2 separate regions of the Homo sapiens genome follow, and region 1 is linked to region 2. The links come from fine-mapping of genetic effects on plasma protein levels. Region 2 holds a variant in brackets. A gene starts in the other region. All regions are shown on their forward strands.

Region 1 (8,322 bases), not on the chromosome of region 2:
CCTACAACCAGTGGGTGTGAGATGAGTCATTGCCCAGTCCCCTGAGAAAGTCAGTGATCTCACAAGGGATTGTTTCTAGGTATTTTCCTGACAGCCAGTCCCTTCCCAGACAGCCTTTGGTTGGTTTCCCTGCCACACCACTCAACAGTATGTACGGGTCTCCTCTCAGGCAGGCTCTGTACCAGGCACTGGGGGTAGGTCTTTGTTCTCAGGGGCCCTGTGAGGCAGACACATGAGTAAACCACACTTCTCAGTGTGACAAGTGTTTTTTTTTGTCTTTGTTTTTGTTTTTTTTTTCTCCTTGAGACAGGGTCTCACTCTGTCACCCAGGATGGAGTGCAGTGGCATGCTCAGGGCTCACTGTAGCCTCAGCTTCCTGGGTTCAAGCGATCCTCCCACCTCAGCCTTTCCAGTAGCTGCGACTACAGGCATGTGCCACCATGTCAAGCTAATTTTTGCATTTTTTGTACAGTCTCACCATGTTGCCCAGTCTGGTTTCAAACTCCTAGGATTAAGTGATCTGCCTACCTCAGACTCCCAAAGTGCTGGGATTACAGGCATTGGCCACTGTGCCCGACTGACAAGTGTCTTTATCAAATCCCCAGATACTATGAGAGTGTGGGTAGGGTGGGAATCCAACACAAGGATAAATTCTTCAGGCAGACAAAGGAGGAGATGGTTTCCAGACAGGAGGAAGAGAATGTGTAAGGGCGCAGAGGCTTCAGAAGTCTTGTATGTCTGGAGAACAGCAAGGGGTCAGCATGACGGGAACACAGGGACGGTATGGGAAGGGAGGGGTGAGGAGGGGAGACCAGCAGGGAGCAGGCCTGGCAGGCCTTGGAGACTACACACTGTCTGCAGAGCTCTGAGGAGCACAGTCAGGGAGTCATTGGAGCCCCACGGCCATGTCCAGGTTCAGGGAATCACAGTTTAGCCCCCAGCATGTTTTCTGGCACCTCTAGGGGCAGCAGAAGCAGCCCCAGCAGGGTGCAGCAGAGAGAGTCAAGGAAATCCTAGAGCAGAAGGGCCACTATCCCTGTGACAGACTGCTGGCTGACTATTCCAAAACCCAGTCTCCCCTTCTTTCTAACAGTACCTCAAGTTTCAGCTGAGCACTTGTTGCCTGGAATAAAGAGTTCTATGTCTAAACCTCCTTTCTAGCTGGGTGGGAGCATATGACTGAGTTTTAGCAAAAGAAGGGAAGTGTTAAGATCATGTGGGCCTTCTGGGAAGGCTGGGTGAAGGCAGCTCAATCACCTGTGTGGACTGCCTTTCTACAGCCCTTCTGTTTTTCCTCCTTTGACCAACCTGCAACTTGTATGTGATGGCTGGAGCTCCAGCCAACATGTGGAACCGTGAGGAGGCCTTGAGGGTAGAAGTCACATACCTATATGTCGGATCCTAATGACGGATCTCCAGTGAAGCACTCCCACACTAGAACTGACCTGAATTTCTCTGGACATGTTTTCACATGAAAGAGTAACAAGCAACTATCTTGTTTAATCTACTGTTATTTTGGCTTGTGTCTTACGTGTAACTGAACCTAAACTTAACTGACGTGAACTTAAATCCCCTCATTTTCTGGAGGAAAAATTTGAGATCAGGGAAGCAAGTTGACTGGGTAAAGATTACTCAGAGAGTTTACCCAAAAGCTCCGTCTCTCCTAGCAAAACTTTCTGATGATTTTTGCTCATTTCCAATTCAACAAGGATTTCTTGAGCCTATGCATGCAGGATCATGTAGCACAGTAGCGTAGAGCCTGAACCCCAAGGCCAGACTTCGTTTTTGTTTTGTTTTGTTTGAGACACAGTCCACTATGTTGTCCAGGCTGGTCTCAAACTCCTGGCCTCAAGCGACCTTCCACCTCAGGATCCCAAAGTGCTGGGATTACAGGTGTGAGTCACTGTGCCCAGCCAAGGCCAGATGTCTTGAATGCCAGTCTCAGGAATGCTACTCACTAACTGGGAGACCATGAACAATTCCTTAACCTGCCTCTGCCTCAGTACCGCCATCTGTAAAATAGGGATAAGAATAGCACCTACTTTTCAGGGTTCTTATGAGACTAAATAAGTTATAGGTAAGTAGATGTATGAGTAAAGCACATAGGTTAGCTGCTATGGGCACAGACTCTGGTTCAAAGCTCGACTCTGTCACCAGCTAGCTATGTGATCAGGGGCAAGTTATTTAACCTCTTTGTGCTTCTATTTCCTCGCAAGTAAAACGGAGACAATAGCAGTACTTACAAAGCTGTTTTGTGGATTAAAGCACTGCGAACAGTGCCTGGCATGCAGAGAGTGCCAGGAAGCCATGTCCATCATTGTTAATTACCATGTGCTGATGAGCCCTGTACTGAGTGAAGAAGGGGCTCAAGGTCAGGTTGTGAGGTGAATGGGAGAGGGACTGGAGGGACAAACAGGAGATACGAGTTAACATCACTGAGCAAAATCACTGCAGTAATTGCTGTCCAGGTGCTACCTCATTTGTTTCCCCAGTACTCCTAGCAGAGGATATTATTCTCCCCATTTTTCAGTGAGGGAACTGAGCACCCGAAAGGTTGGGTGATGTGAACAAGGCCTCCCTGCTGGGAAGGGTCAGGGCAAGGGTTTGAATCCAGTTCCGTGCCACCCCTCAAAGGCCTCCACCTCTGAGGAAGAAACCTCTGATGCATCCTTCACCTAGCTCACCTCTGAGAATTTGTAGCTCAGAAAGGAACCGGTAATGTGGGCATTTTCTCTCCACTTGCCCTTGCATTTGTCAATACTCACTGTATTTTTATTTTTATTTATTTATTTTTTTTGAGACAGAGTCTCACTGTTACCTAGGTTGGAGTGCAGTGGCATGATCTTGGCTTACTGCAACCTCCGCCTCTTGGGTTCAAGTGATTCTCCTGCCTCAGTCTCCCGAGTACCTGGGATTACAGGCGCCCACAACCATGCCCGGCTAATTTCTGTATTTTTAGTAGAGGCGGGGTTTCACCGGTGGCCAGGCTAGTCTCGAACTCCTGACCTCAAGTGATCCGCCGGCCTCAGCCTCCCAAAGTGCTGGGATTGCAGGTGTGAGCCACCACGCCTGGCCTGTCAATACCATTGTGTTTCTGAGCCTATCCATCCATTCAAGGAGCGCTCACATACAGGTCACTGTGGGTTACCGCTAGGCTGAGATTGTTTTGCTTTTTTAATAGCTTGCCCTGTGGAGCGTGATGATGACTTCCTCTTCTGTCCCCTAAAAGAACCTGAAACTGTAAGTGTGAAAGTGTGGCGCAGGGGAGAACTGCCTAGGCAAGGGCAGCTGGCACGACCCTTCTCACCTCTTCCCTAACATTCCTAGCATTCATGTTACAAGCAAGGGCCACCGCGCCCCCTGCTTGAGCATGTTAGCCGGGCGGTAGGGACGGAGACAGTTCTCTCATGACGTTCGAGTAACCAGGAAACTTCATCACAGGGACAACACCACAGCACCCGAGGACTCAATGTCTAGGGGGAAAAGCTCTGGAGAAAGCGGAGGGTCGGATCATAAAATAATCATAAACTCAGCGTCCCAGACGGCATCTGGGATGGGAAGTACAATGATCATTTAAAAAAAAAAAAGTCTTTGACACTCTTCCTACACCTTTCTGAAATGGCACAATCTGTCAGACCACATCTGATGCAAGGAAAAGCAAGACAGGAGCGCTTTTCCCGGATAACAAAGCCAAGACTCCCATTCCTAAACCCTAGCTCAGGTCTCCATCTCTTAAATCCGAGTGACCTCTACAAACTCTCCCTGAGAAGGTGTCCAGAACCCTTTTGGAAGCGAGGGACAGTGTCACTGTCTTTGGGGTTGACACCTGCTCTGAGTAACTCACGGAAAACAAGTTCCAGCTGGGAAGCCCTTGGACGCGCCACACCTCCCTACCCGCAGCCCGTCCTGTGGCGCCCGGGACTCCAGAGTGCGTTTAGATGAAAGGGGACCGACACGTCAGGGCCACCGCGGGAAGCGCTGAGGGCCACTCACCGGCCAGGGACGCGAAGAGCGCGGCCGCCGCGCTGAGCTGCCGGGGCATGGTGGGCGCTGGGCGAGGTTCTGCAGCGTGCGGCGAAGTCCGGGCAGGCCCCGAATCGGTGCCAGAGAAACCTACCTGTGCCGGAGAAACGAAACCACCTGCTTATGAGAAGCAGCCGAAAAGCCCGCCCAGGGCCGCTGGGCGGGGAGGGAAACTCCGCCGGCCCCCTCCTACCCCTACGGAGCAGGGAGGGGCGGGGACTCGGCGCAGCCGCCGGGGCCCGGGCCTCTGGGACCGTTTACCGCACGCGCGTGGTCCCGGCAGCGCCGGCCTCCTCCGCTCATACCCTGGGTCTCCTCCTTTCTTTTTCTTTTCTTTTTGAGACGAAGTCTCGCTCTGTCGCCCAGGGTGGAGTGCAGTGGCGCGATCTCGGCTCACTACAACCTCTGCCTCCCGGGTTCAAGCGATTCTTCTGCCTCAGCCTCCCGAGTAGCTGGGATTACAGGCATGCACCACCACACCCGGCTAATTTTTGTATTTTTAGTAGAGACGGGGTGTCACCATATTGGCCAGGCTGGTCTCGAGCTCCTGACCTCGTGATTCGCCCGCCTCGACCTCCCAAAGTGCTGGGATTATAGACGTGAGCCACCGAGCCCGGCCAGGGTCTCCTCTTTTATTTCTTTTCTTTTTATTTCTTTTGTTTTGTTTTGTTTTGTTTTGTTTTTTGAGACAAAGTCTCGCTCTGTCGCCAGGCTGGAGTGCAGTGGCGGGATCTCGGCTCACTGCCCTGGTTCAAGCGATTCTCCTGCCGCAGCCTCCCGAGTAGCTGGGGTTACAGGCGCCCGCCACCACGCCCAGCTAATTTTTGTATTTTAGTAGAGACGGGGTTTCACCCTGTTGGCCAGGCTGGTCTCGATCTCCTGACCTTGTGATCCGCCCGCCTCGGCCTCCCAAAGTGTTGGGATTACAGGCGTGAGCCACTGCGCCCGGCCCAGGGTCTCCTCTTTTCTAACAGCTCGGGTACCTTTCTGGGAACCCAGAGACGCTTCTCAGCCGGGAGAAAGCCAGCCACTAGGCGAGCAGGAGCCTAAAAACCCCTAAGCACCCTGACTCCATGTCTTCCCAGGGAGTCTGCGGCAGCCGCGCTCCACGCCCAGGCCTCGCCAGGACCGCGGTTTGCGGGAAGCAACAGGAGCACAGCCCAGAGGCGCTAGGTCTGGCTGGGAGCTCGCGCTGCCGACTCCCCGGCGTGCGGCGTCGGGGAACCTCTAGGAGCCTTGGATTCTTCAGCTGTAAAACGGACATAATAATGCCCACTCCCAGTGTGTTTTTTTATTTTCTTTTTTCTTTTTCTTTCTTTGTTTTTGTTTGTTTGTTTTTGTTTTTGTTTTTGAGACAGGGTCTCACTCTGTCGCCCAGGCTGGAGGGCAATGGCGTGATCTCGGCTCACTGCAAACTTGGGTTCAGGCGATTCTCCTGCCTCAGCCTCCACAGTAGCTGGGATTACAGATGTGCGCCACCACGTCCGGCTAATTTTTTGTATTTTTAGTAGAGACCAGGTTTCACCGTGTTGGCCAAGCTGGTCTCAAACTCCTGACCCCAGGTGATCCGCCCGCCTCGGCCTTCCAAAGATCTGGGATTACAAGCGTGAGCCACTGTGCCTGGCCCCAGGTGGTTTTACAGACCAGAAAATCCTGGAACAAAAAACACACAATATCGTTTTTTTTTTTTTTTTGGAGTCAGGGTCTCGCTCTATCACCCAGGCTGGAGTGCAGTGGCGTGATCTCGGCTCACTGCAACTTCGACCTCCTGGCCTCAAGTGAGTCTCCCACCTTAGCCTCCTGAGTAGCTGGGACCAAAGGCGCGTGCCACCACGCCCAGCTATTTTATTTTATTTTATGTAGAGAGGAGGTCTCGCTGTGTTGCCCAGGCTGGTCTCGAGTTCCTGGCCTCAAATGATCCTCCTGCGTTAGCCAACCATTGGGATTACAGGCGTAAGCCACGGCCCACGGCTCAACAACGCTGACAGGCAACCTTTTAATGTCTTATCTCCTTCCTCTATTAATTGGATTGTCTGTCAAAACAACGATGTTTTGACAGGGCTTGAGTCCCAGTGGGGAATACACATTTAAGCAGTATATTAGGAGACCCTCCTTATCACTAGATTGAGGGCTTTCAGCCTAGCCTCAAATTATTTTCTGAAAAATAACTTTGGCTACAACTATTTTGTCTTACTATGTTGCTCCAAACACTAATCAAGTAAACTTAACCAAAGCTTGCAGTGTGTTTCAGAATGGAATTTTTATGGTGAAAAGTGAGGGTTAACTTGTGCCAGTCAACCTAGTTTCAGCAACTACCTGCTTTCTGATCTTTGAGACAGTTTATTCAAAAGACGATAATTAAGTGGGTATAGACTGTGTGCCAGGCACTCTTCTTATTCCATTTAAGCGCCATAGCCACTCTATATGGACACTGTTGTTATTATCGCTGCCCCATTTCGCAGATGGAGAAACTAAGCACAAAGAAGGGAGTTGCCCAGAGTCACTTAGATAATAAATACCGAAACCTGACCATAAATCTTGTCTGCCTTGAGAGTCTAGGATTTTAAGCACATAGCCGGGCGCAGTGGCTCACGCCTGTAATCCCAGCACTTTAGGAGGCCGAGGCGGGCGGATCACGAGGTCAGGAGATGGAGACCATCCTGGCTAACACAGTGAAACCCAGTTCTATTAAAAATATAAAAAAATTAGCCAGGCGTGGTGGCAGGTGCATGTAGTCCCAGCTACTCGGGAGGCTGAGGCAGGAGAATGGTGTGAACCCAGGAGGTGGAGCTTGCAGTGAGCGGAGATCGCGCCACTGCACTCCAGCCCGGGCGACAGAAGGAGACTCCGTCTCAAAAAAAAAAAAATAAATAAAATAAAGCTGCTCCTCTTACCCTGGAAATTCCAAGGGATTTAGGAGCTCTGTTTCAGGAACCAGGGTCAAAGACCAAGTATTAAAACAAAAGATTCTCCTAGAACTCTGGCATATAAGGATTTTAGGAGCTCTGTCTTAGAAACTGGGACAGAGACCAAAGATATATTATTATATCGCAGTATCATAGTTTATTATTTTCAAAAAACGTTTTCTGGCTGGTACAGTGGTTCATGCCTATAATCCAAGCACTTTGGGAGGCCAAGGTGGGAGGGTCACTTGAGGCCAGAAGTTCAAGTCCAGCCTGGGCAACACAGGGAGACCCTGCCACTATTAAAAATTTTTTAAATTAGCTGGGCATGGTGGCACATGCCTGTAGTCCCAGCTACTTGGGAGGCTGAAGCAGGAGGATTGCTTGAGCCTGAGAGGTCAAGACTGTAGTGAGCTGCGATCAAGCGACTGCACTCTAGCCTGGGTGACAAAGCCAGACCCTGTGTCTAAAAAAAAGAAAAGAAGAGGAAAAAAAAAGGTTTTTATTTCAACTAAGTTGTTGGATTTATTAGCATAAAGCTTTTCATAACAATCCCTTGTCTTACAATATCTGTAGTATAGGTAGTGATGTCACTTCTTTTATTACTAATATTAATAATTTGTATTTTCTCTCTTATTTCCCTGCTAATATTAATAATTTGTATTTTCTCTCTTTTTTCCCTGATAAGTTTGGCTGGAGGTTGATCAATTCTATTCATGTTTTCAAGAAAAAAAAAAAAATTTCATTTCATCGAGTTCCTTCATTGTTCTTATGTTTTCTGTTTTATTCATTTCTACCTGATCTTTATTATTTTCTTTCTTCTACTTAACTTGTGTTTTATTTGCTCCTCTTTCAATAGTTTTCAAAGATGGAACTTGCCTGGGATATCCCAGCACTTTAGGAGGCTGAGGTGGGAGGATCACCTGAGGTCAGGAGTTCAAGACCAGCCTGGCCAACATGGTGAAACTCCGTCTCTACTAAAAATACAAAAATTAGCTGGGTGTGGTGGTGGGCACCTGTGATCCCAGCTACTCGGGAGGCTGAGGCAGGAGAATCGCTTGAACCCGGGAGGTGGAGGTTACAGTGAGCTGAGATCACGCCACTGCACTCCAGCCTGGGTGACAGGAGCTAGACTCTGTCTCAAAAAAAAAAAAAGAAAAAAAAAAAGATGGAAGTTGAGGCCAGTGGTATAAAATCTTTCTTCATCTCTAATAAACAGGTTTACTGTTATGAACGTCCCTCTAATTACTACTTTAGTTGGATCCCACAAGTTTAATATGTTTTCATTTTCATATAATTAGAAAGACTTCCTAATTTCCTTTTGCTATCTCCTCGACTCATGGTTATTTAAAATAGCATTATTTCATTTCCAAACATATAGTTTTTCAGATATCTT
Region 2 (8,322 bases):
CCCCTTCCCACCCTCCTTCACCCCAGAAAACCTCCCGCCCCTTCCCATCCTGGTGTCACCTCCACAGGAGGCCCCCCTGGCCCATAGCCCACACCTCCCCGCCCTCTACCAAGCTGGGCTCTCGAGGAGAGGGAAGCCATGGATCACAAAACAGCGTTCCACAAACAGGGGTCTCAGCCTGGACCTGGCCCGTGGGGTGGAGCCTTCCAGGACCACGTGCACACCACCCTCCAAACCCCTCAACAAGACTTTGGGCCCTCGCGCCCTGCACCCAGAACTCCGTTTGTAACTGTGACTTCAGAATGAGCAAGCCTGGGGGCCAGGCGGGGAGGGTCCCGGTACTCACCGGCTGTCGCTGGAGAAGGCAGGGTATGGCGGCAGCGAGAAGGTGTTCCAGTAGGGGCAGTGCAGCATGGCGCTCTAGAAGAGACAGCGGGCATCAGTGAGTGGGAAGCAGAGGACCTGCGGTGCAGCCCGGCTAAGCCCTCCGGGCAGGGTGACAGGCCGAGAGGCTAGGGAGGCCCCGCAGTCAGGGTCCCATCCCGCCCCTGCTGGTATCTCCTGGGGAGTCATTTAACTGCCCCGTGCCTCAGTTTCCCCACCTGCACAAGACCCCACCCAAGGCTTGTGGTGTGGTCTGAAGGCACTGAACCACCCGCGTGAAGGGCTCAGCACAGGTCTTGCTCTACCAGCAGCCCCATGTGCAGGCCCGCAGCCCGGGAGTCTGCATCTCACACAAGACCTGGGGGTGCCGCTGGCCCCGGGACCCTGCTTGGAGGCCCCATTCTAGGAGGTGGAGGATCGGACCGTTTGCGTGAGGGAGACGCGCACCCGCTGCCTGTGGTGGAGGGTGGGTGTCGGGGGCTCCTCGGGCAGGGCCTGGGGCAGGCGAGGGCCTCACACCACCTCCAGGCCCCTCGGACAAGCTGATGTGCCCGGGAAGCTCAGGCTGCTGCGGGACGGGGCCCTGACTTCTCAGAAGCTGCACGGGGCTGGGGTGCGGGGAGCCTGCTTTGGGAAATGGTGACCAGTGGCCTGGAGGCTCAGCCCGAGGTCAGTGGAGGCGTGAGTGGCTCCAGGTTGGCCGAATCTCTGGTGGGTCTGACTCCAGGCCAGGCTTACCCAACACCCTCGCCAGGAGCCGATGTCCCCACCCCATGGTTCTCTGGGAAAACCTCACTATGCCTGCCCTTGGGAATGAGAGCGGCTTGAGGCACACGGCAGGCCCCAAAACCTGAGGATGGGGAGCACACGGGGCAGCAGCGGGCCCAAGGGCGGCAGCGGGCCCAGGGTCAGCACCTGCGGCTTCGGGGGCAGGGCTGTGGACACCTCGTGCCCTGCAGAATGGGCACCCCTCAGCAGGGCCCCCACCTGCACAGGGCCAACCTCACCTGCAGCAGAGAGACCCTGCCGTCACAGACGCCCCCACAGTCACGGGGGAGACCCTGCCGTCACGGATGCCCCCACGGTCACGGGGGAGACCCTGCCGTCACGGACGCCCCCACGGTCACGGGGGAGACCCTGCCGTCACGGACGCCCCCGTGGTCATGGGGGAGACACCACCAGCCGGGGGCATCATCCTGCTTATCCCAGCAGGACTGGGGGCCACGCTGGCTTCCAGAACAGGGTTGGGGGTTCGCCTGCTTCCCTGAGTCCCCCAGTGACCTCTCCCAGGCCCACGTGAGCCCTGCTCCTCTATGAGGCCCTGATGCAATTCCCTGGGGCTCGGCCACCTCTGCCCCTCATTCACCTCACACTGGCTGGGAACCAGCCCGGATGGCCGGGGGCCACTTTCTGTACCCGCAGGTGCTGGGTGGGGGATTCCAGGACCCCCGACAGCCTCGAGATAGGCAAAGCCCTCGGGGTGACCGCTGCCCCGCTCCTCCAGCTTTTGCATAAAATAAGTTTATCAGCAAAAGCCCACAGCTCCTCCCCTGCACAGAGGCCGGCAGCCTGGGCACCCTGAGCTCCTGCACCCGTGAGAAGACCCCGTGCAAGTGGCTTGCAGGAAGCCGGGCCACCAGCCACAGGGGCTCCAGAGCCCGGGTCTCCTGATCCTTCCCCTCCTCCTGCCCTTTTGGGAAGAGAGAAAGCCAGCCCTGGAGAGAAACAGGAACTTCCCAAGGCCATGTGGCACATCCGGAACATTCTGGAACAGAACTCTGACTCCAGACCAACCCAGCCTCCTCAGATGAGCTGGAGTCCGTCTCAGGCACACACGGCGCCTTGGGCCAGGCTGGGCAGGGCCACGGCCAGGGAACTGCAGCTGCAGGAAGGGGGCGGGGGGCTTGGGGTCGCAGGGCGGGAGGATCCAGGGGTCCCTGGCTCACCCAACATGCTCCACCTGTACCCAGGCCAGGCTAGGGGATGGGACGGGGGGAAAGTCCTGACTGCCTCTATCCCCCTAGTCTCCTCCCTCCCACAGCCCATGGCTCCTCTGAGACCTGCCATCCACACACACCCGAGTCCCACCCCACAGGGGTGCCATGGGCATGGCAGGCCAATCAGAGTCTTCCCTGGGACCTTCTCTGGCAGCCAGAGGGTGTGGCTTCACCTTTAGATGGCAGGTCCTAGCACATAATTGGTCCAGAGATGGGCACCTGACCCTGCCCAGACAATCAGAGCCTGCCTGGTGATTTTCTTTCCTTTCCTTATTTTGAGACGGAGTCTCACTCTGTCACCCAGGCTGAAGTGCAGTGGCACGATCGTGGCTCACTGCAACCTCCACCTCCCGAGTTCAAGCGATTCTCCTGTCTCAGCCTCATGCGTAGCTGGGATTACAGGCGCCCGCCACCACGCCCAGCTAACTTTTGTATTTTTAGTAGAGATGGGATTTCATCATGTTGGCCAGGCCGGTCTCGAACTCCTGACCCCAAGCAATGTGCCCACCTCGGCCTCCCAGAGTGCTGGGATTTCAGGCGTGAACCATTGTGCTGGCCGGTGTATTTTTATTTCTAATTGAATACTCTGGGCACTGGAAGAGGCTGGGCTGTGCGTGTGCGAACTCAGTCGACCCTGCCCAGAGGTGTCCATGACGTACCCGAATGTGACGGAACCCGGAACAGGGAGGGTGGGATGAGCCTCACACACGGGATGGGGAGCAAAGCCGGTTACGCGCACGGGTGCGCCCCGGCCTGAGCCCTGTGGCTGGTGTCCAGTGCCCCCGCCGGGTTCCAGCCCTGTCGCATTCCCCGACTGTCACTGCTAACACCTTCCTGCTCCCGCTCGGATCCTTGAAGATGGCTCCTCTGTCTCCACATCCCATAATTCGCTTAATTATTTCCCCACCGTAGAGCCTCTGGGGAGATTCCAGTTTCCTGCCACTATAAATAGTGCCGCTCTGTCTTCCCCTCCCTCCTGGATTAGTCCCCAGGGTGTGTTTCCGAGATAGAATTCTTGGATCGGAACAAGCTCCTGGCGGGTTTCGGGGGATGGAGCTGTTCCGGTGGGGATGTGGCTTGGCCAGTCCCCTTTATGGTGGCCCAGGAGGCTGACCGACGGCCGGTACTCGAGCTCCACCGGGGCAGCTGTGAGGATCCAGCCTCAACCCCAAGGGACTCAGGAACTAGGGAGGGGGACAGGAGGGGTCTGGGCCGCAACAGGGACCCTGCTACGAGAGGGGTACCCTGGCCCC[A/G]GCTCAGAGCCCCCTCTGGACGGTCAGAACATGGCAGGAAGCTGCCCAAAGCCCTCTGAGGATGGACTGCCGAGGGGTGTCTGTGATGTTCGCCCCACAGGCCAACCTGGGTGTTGGGCTAGGGAGTACCCAGGAGACCCTGGAGTCCTGGAGCAGGTCCTGCTGCTTGATAGGAGAGGGCAGCCCCTCTGTCTCCAGGTAAATCCCCAGGCAGGGCCGGGCGCGGTGGCTCACGCCTGTAATCCCAGCACTTTGGGAGGTCAAGGCAGGCGGGTCAACTGAGCCCGGGAGTTTGAGACCAGCGTGTCCAACGGGGCAAAACCTCATCTCTACGAGAAAATTTTAAAAATCTGCCGGGCATGGTGGCGCGTACCTGTGGTCCCAGCTACTCAGGAGGCTGAGGCAGGAGAATCACTAGCCCAGGAGGCAGAGGCTGCAGTGAGCCGAGATCGCACCACTGCACTTCCAGCCTGGGCAACAGAGTGAAACCGTGTTTTAAAAATAACAAAACAAAATAAAATAAAATGAAATAAAATAAAAATAAATATATATATACACGTTTATATATTTTTAATTTAAAAATTTTTTTTTTTCTTTTTGAGCCACAGTTTCGCTCTGTCACCCAGGCTGGAGTGCAGTGGTGCAATCTCTGCTCACTGCAGCCTCTGCCTCCCAGGTTCAAGCGATTCTCCTGCCTCAGCCTCCCAAGTAGCTGGGATTACAGACACCTGCCACCACGCCAGGCTAATTTTTTGTATTTTTAGTAGAGACAGGGTTTCACCATGTTGGCCAGGCTGGTCTCAAACTCCTGACCTCAAGTGATCTGCCCGCCTTGGCCTCTGAAAGTGCTAGGATTACAGGCGTGAGCCACCGTGCCAGGCCTATTTTTCATTTTTTTGAGATGGAGTCTCACTCTTGTCGCCCAGGCTAGAGTTCAGTGGCGCCGTCTCCACTCACTGCAGCCTCTGCCTCCTAGATTTAAGCAATTCTCCTGCCTCAGCCTCCCGAGTAGCTGGGATTACAGGCGTCCGCCACCACGCCTGGCTAAGTTTGGTATCTTTAGCAGAAGCGAGGTTTCACTATGTTGGCCAGGCTGGTCTTGAACTCGGGACCTCAGGTGATCTGCCCACCTCCACCTCCCAAAGTGCTGGGATTACAAGCACGAGCCACTTGGCCAGAAACATATTTTTTAAGTAATTCCCTCACTGACAGGTTCCTACAAGTAAAGTTGAGCCCCCCCTACAGCTGACGGCGAAGGAACTGGAAGCTCTGCAGCAGGGAGAATCTCCTCAAATGTGCTTCTTGAAAAGCTGGGGCCATGAGTAGCCTCCCATTCACATCCCCATGGGGACCCTTCTCCAGGGCCCACGGGGGCGGGTGGAGCCGGGCTCCGGGCCAGGAAGGTCAGGTGGAGATCACGCCGCGTCCACTGGGGCAGCATTCCGCACGACGTGACCCCGGGCACTCGGAGCGGGGCAAGTGCCCGTGGACCCCGTCGGGTGGGCCGGGGCCGGGGGTGGGGCTCACCTGCAGGGGCGGCGGGCTGTACAGGAGGCTGCCCGCCGGCGGGGGTTCATGCTGCGGGTAATCCCTGTCCATGGCGGGCCCCACTGCAAGCATCGGGCGGCAGGCGGGGTGGGGTCCTCGGCCGGGCAGCAGGCGGCGGGACTCCAGGACCCGGGGCCGCCGGGGCGTCTATCTGGGCTTCTCGCTCCGTGGTGGCGGCGGTGGCGGCAGCATCATGATCTGCAGAGGGAGACGGGGACGTCCTGAGAGTCCAACGGTGGTGGAGAGTGGTGCTCCCCGGCCGCCTCTCCCTCGGGCATGACCGGTCCCAGCCTGGGCTGCAGCTCCTGCTACCTCCTGGGCCGGAACCAAAAGGCGCTCCTTCCCCTCCCCACTCACCCCCACCCGCCATCAGCAGTGCCACCCAACTCCTTTGTGCTGCCCACAGCGCCTTTCCTGGCCTCCCCGGCCCCAACTACAACGATTAAGGTGGGCCCGACAGGGCTGCCCAGGTCACAGGGCAGCCGTAGGACCAGGCACCCAGACTGTGAGCAGTGGAGCTGCAGGCTGACTCCCCCACATCTGGCTTTGTCAGCAGCCGGTGTGAGACTGTGGAGGGAGAGTCCAACCCGGGCCCGGCACCCAGGGGAGCCCAGGGGACACTGGACCCAGCCCTGTCCCTCAGAGGCAGCAGGGGCTCCACAGTGAGGTCTCCCAAGGAGGGGGGTCAGGGGCCACGCAGAGCTGGAAGAGCACCCAGACCTCGTTTCAGGCTAATCACACACCAGCATCCCCACTGAGAACGTTCCTGGGCTACAGAGCCGAGCCCCACACCATCAGACGCCAGGGACAGCTCCCACGTGCCCCGCGGCCTCTGGCACACGGCCAGACGCCCGCCAGGCTGAGCCCCCACCAGGCCCTACCTGGCGAGTGCAGGGACCCAGGCTGGCCCGTGGTGGCAGGGAAAGCTTTCCAGGCGTCCGCCCAGCATGCTCACTGCCGAGGGCGGCAGGAAGGGGAGGCGGCGGCCACTCCCGGCCAAGCCCTGGAGTGAAGAAATCTCCGGGACTTCCAGTAATTGCCGTCCAGCCACACGCAGGCACTTGTGCAATCCCGTGGGGGAGAGGCACGTCTCTGCCCGGCGCTCCAGAGACAGTGGCCGGGCAACAGGGGCTGGGGGTCGGGACTCCTGTCCCAGAGACCAGATGGAGGTGGTCAGGCACAGTGGGGGTCACCCTGCCAGGCCGTCCCAACTGTCCGCGGCCTCTGCCTGCTCCCTGCAGTCAGGACGCTACAACCCACTGCCACCAGAGCTGGGACCCTTGGCAGCCCTTCCAGCTGCCCACGGGGACCTGCGACACCCTTGCCAGAACGGCCCTTTAGGGGAAGGGACAGGCCCGCTGGGATCTGGGGTCTTGGCCAATCCTTGTCAAAGATTCTGGGTCAGGCAGGATCAAAGCCTGGCTCCACCTTCTGAGTTGAATAACCTCAGACACCCAAGCTCCTCCAAGCCTCGGTATGTTCCTCTGGGAGACAGGTTCTCTGGGTAGAGCCTGGGACCCCCCGACCCCGGCCCCGTGTGCTGGTGGCCACAAACAGCTCTGCTGGGCCCAAGGCAGCTGCTGATACCGGGGTCCCCATCCAGGGGCCCACCAGTGCTAGGGGGTGGCCCACCCCCTGCCTTGGGGCTCAGCAGCCCCTCCCCTGCAGGGACTCCCCTCAGCTCCTGTCAGCACCCCTTCCTGCTGCAGGTTCCATCTCACGGCAGCCACAGCCCCAGAGCTACGCTGACCTTTTCCACACTCAGGGCGCTCCTCAGCTCTGAGGCCACACAGTCCTGAGCTGATGGGCAGCAGGGCCCAGGCCCCACGGTGGACGGAGCTTGGGGAGGGGGCACCTTGGGCAGCTCTGGGGCGACCCCATGACCGTCCTCGGGGTACACCATAGCTGAGGGACCCCTCCAGCAGCAGGGGCCCTGAGCTCGCCTGTGTCCGAGTCCCCTAGGCCAGCACGGTGCTCCTGGCAGCTCCTCCCTCCCTACGGTCTCTGAGCCCCCCACGTCTGTGGACGCCCCTTCCAGGCGGCAACCCCAGGAGGCTCAGGGGACCGGGTTCTTCAAGGGGAGGGCTTCACACATGGCATGTGACCTGGAGTCCATGCCTTGGGGACCTGGCAGGGTGTGGAGACCTGGACCGGGAGGGGATGGGGGCAGGAGAACAATGCGGACACCAGGCACAACCAACCAAGAGTCAGGGCCCAAAACCAGGAGGCGGAGGCGGAGGCGGATCCTCACACACGGCTGCTTGGCAGTCTGGGATTCCTCAAGAGGCTAACGCTGGAGTCACCACACCACCGAGCAATTCCACACCACACAGAAACGTGGCCATGCACGTCCACAGCAGCACCACTCACAACAGCCACCCGAGGAAGCAGCCCAGTGTCCACGGATAGGCGAGTGGACCAGCATGTGGCGTGGCCCATCCACGTGCCAGAACACGACACAGCCATGAACAGCAGCGAGGCCGACCTAGGCCACAGCGCAGACGCACCTTGAGGACGTCACGCTCTGTGAGAGACGCCAGGCACAGATGTGTGTGATCCCACTACTATGCACTGTCCAGGACGGGCCCATCCAGAGACAGAAGGGGATGCGTGGGTGCCGGGCTGGGGCGACCCTGCACCCGGGGCCCATTTCCAAGTCCCCCCACAACCCAACACTTCAGGCTGTGCCCACTCCTGAGAACGCCCACCCTCTGCAATCCCCCAGGACCCGCCACTCCTGAGAACGCCCACCCTCTGCAATCCCTCAGGACCCACAGCCCTGCCTTTCCGCCCACTGCCAGCCCCCCATCGCCTCCCACCCTGTCCTCGGCCATATCTCACAACCCCTGCTGCCCCGATCCCCAGGCCCTCCCGCAGCCCCCAGCCCCTAGCCCTGCCTGCAGACTCGGTCCTGTCCGAGGGCCCACGCCCCCAAGGGCTGGCTCCCACCCCATGGTCCTGAGCCCTCCGGACCCTTCCCCCATTGACTCCGCCGCCGTTTCTTGCAGCAGCTGTGACCACGCCATGTCTCTGGGGCATCCAGCTGCCCCAATCCCCAGGATAAACCCTAGTGGGACACTGGGTGGGGTCTTGGGGCCTGAGAACACCCCAACGCAGCCTCTGCCACGCAGCCCCGGAGA

Alleles and levels. Positions count from the first base shown, and alleles are read on the strand shown. Strength reflects both the effect of a copy and how common the allele is.
With allele A in place of G in region 2, the plasma level of the protein whose gene starts at base 4,121 in region 1 is higher (weak association).

What was found. A credible set is the group of variants that fine-mapping cannot tell apart. PIP is the posterior inclusion probability: the model's chance that the variant is causal. The UK Biobank Pharma Proteomics Project read protein levels with antibody pairs (Olink). The fine-mapping took linkage between variants from a reference panel, not from the people measured, so its PIPs are less certain.
Region 1: it holds the start of LAMP3, and the variant in region 2 is the best candidate, but not a certain one, in a credible set for the plasma level of the LAMP3 protein (UK Biobank, PIP 0.61).

Annotation. Positions count from the first base shown.
Region 1 is chr3:183,158,614-183,166,935 of GRCh38, forward strand. LAMP3 (lysosomal associated membrane protein 3) reads right to left here and starts at 4,121. Exons shown (of 6, transcript NM_014398.4): 1 at 3,994-4,121. The coding sequence starts at 4,042. RefSeq lists enhancers at 1-187, 888-1,387, 3,300-3,509 and a silencer at 4,122-4,331.
Region 2 is chr19:1,149,023-1,157,344 of GRCh38, forward strand. It overlaps SBNO2 (strawberry notch homolog 2), which reads right to left. Exons shown (of 32, transcript NM_014963.3): 2 at 5,162-5,380; 3 at 347-420. The coding sequence starts at 5,254. Among named protein-coding and RNA genes, the nearest start is that of SBNO2, 21 kb to the right of the region's middle. The variant A/G (reference allele first, on the strand shown) is at 3,635.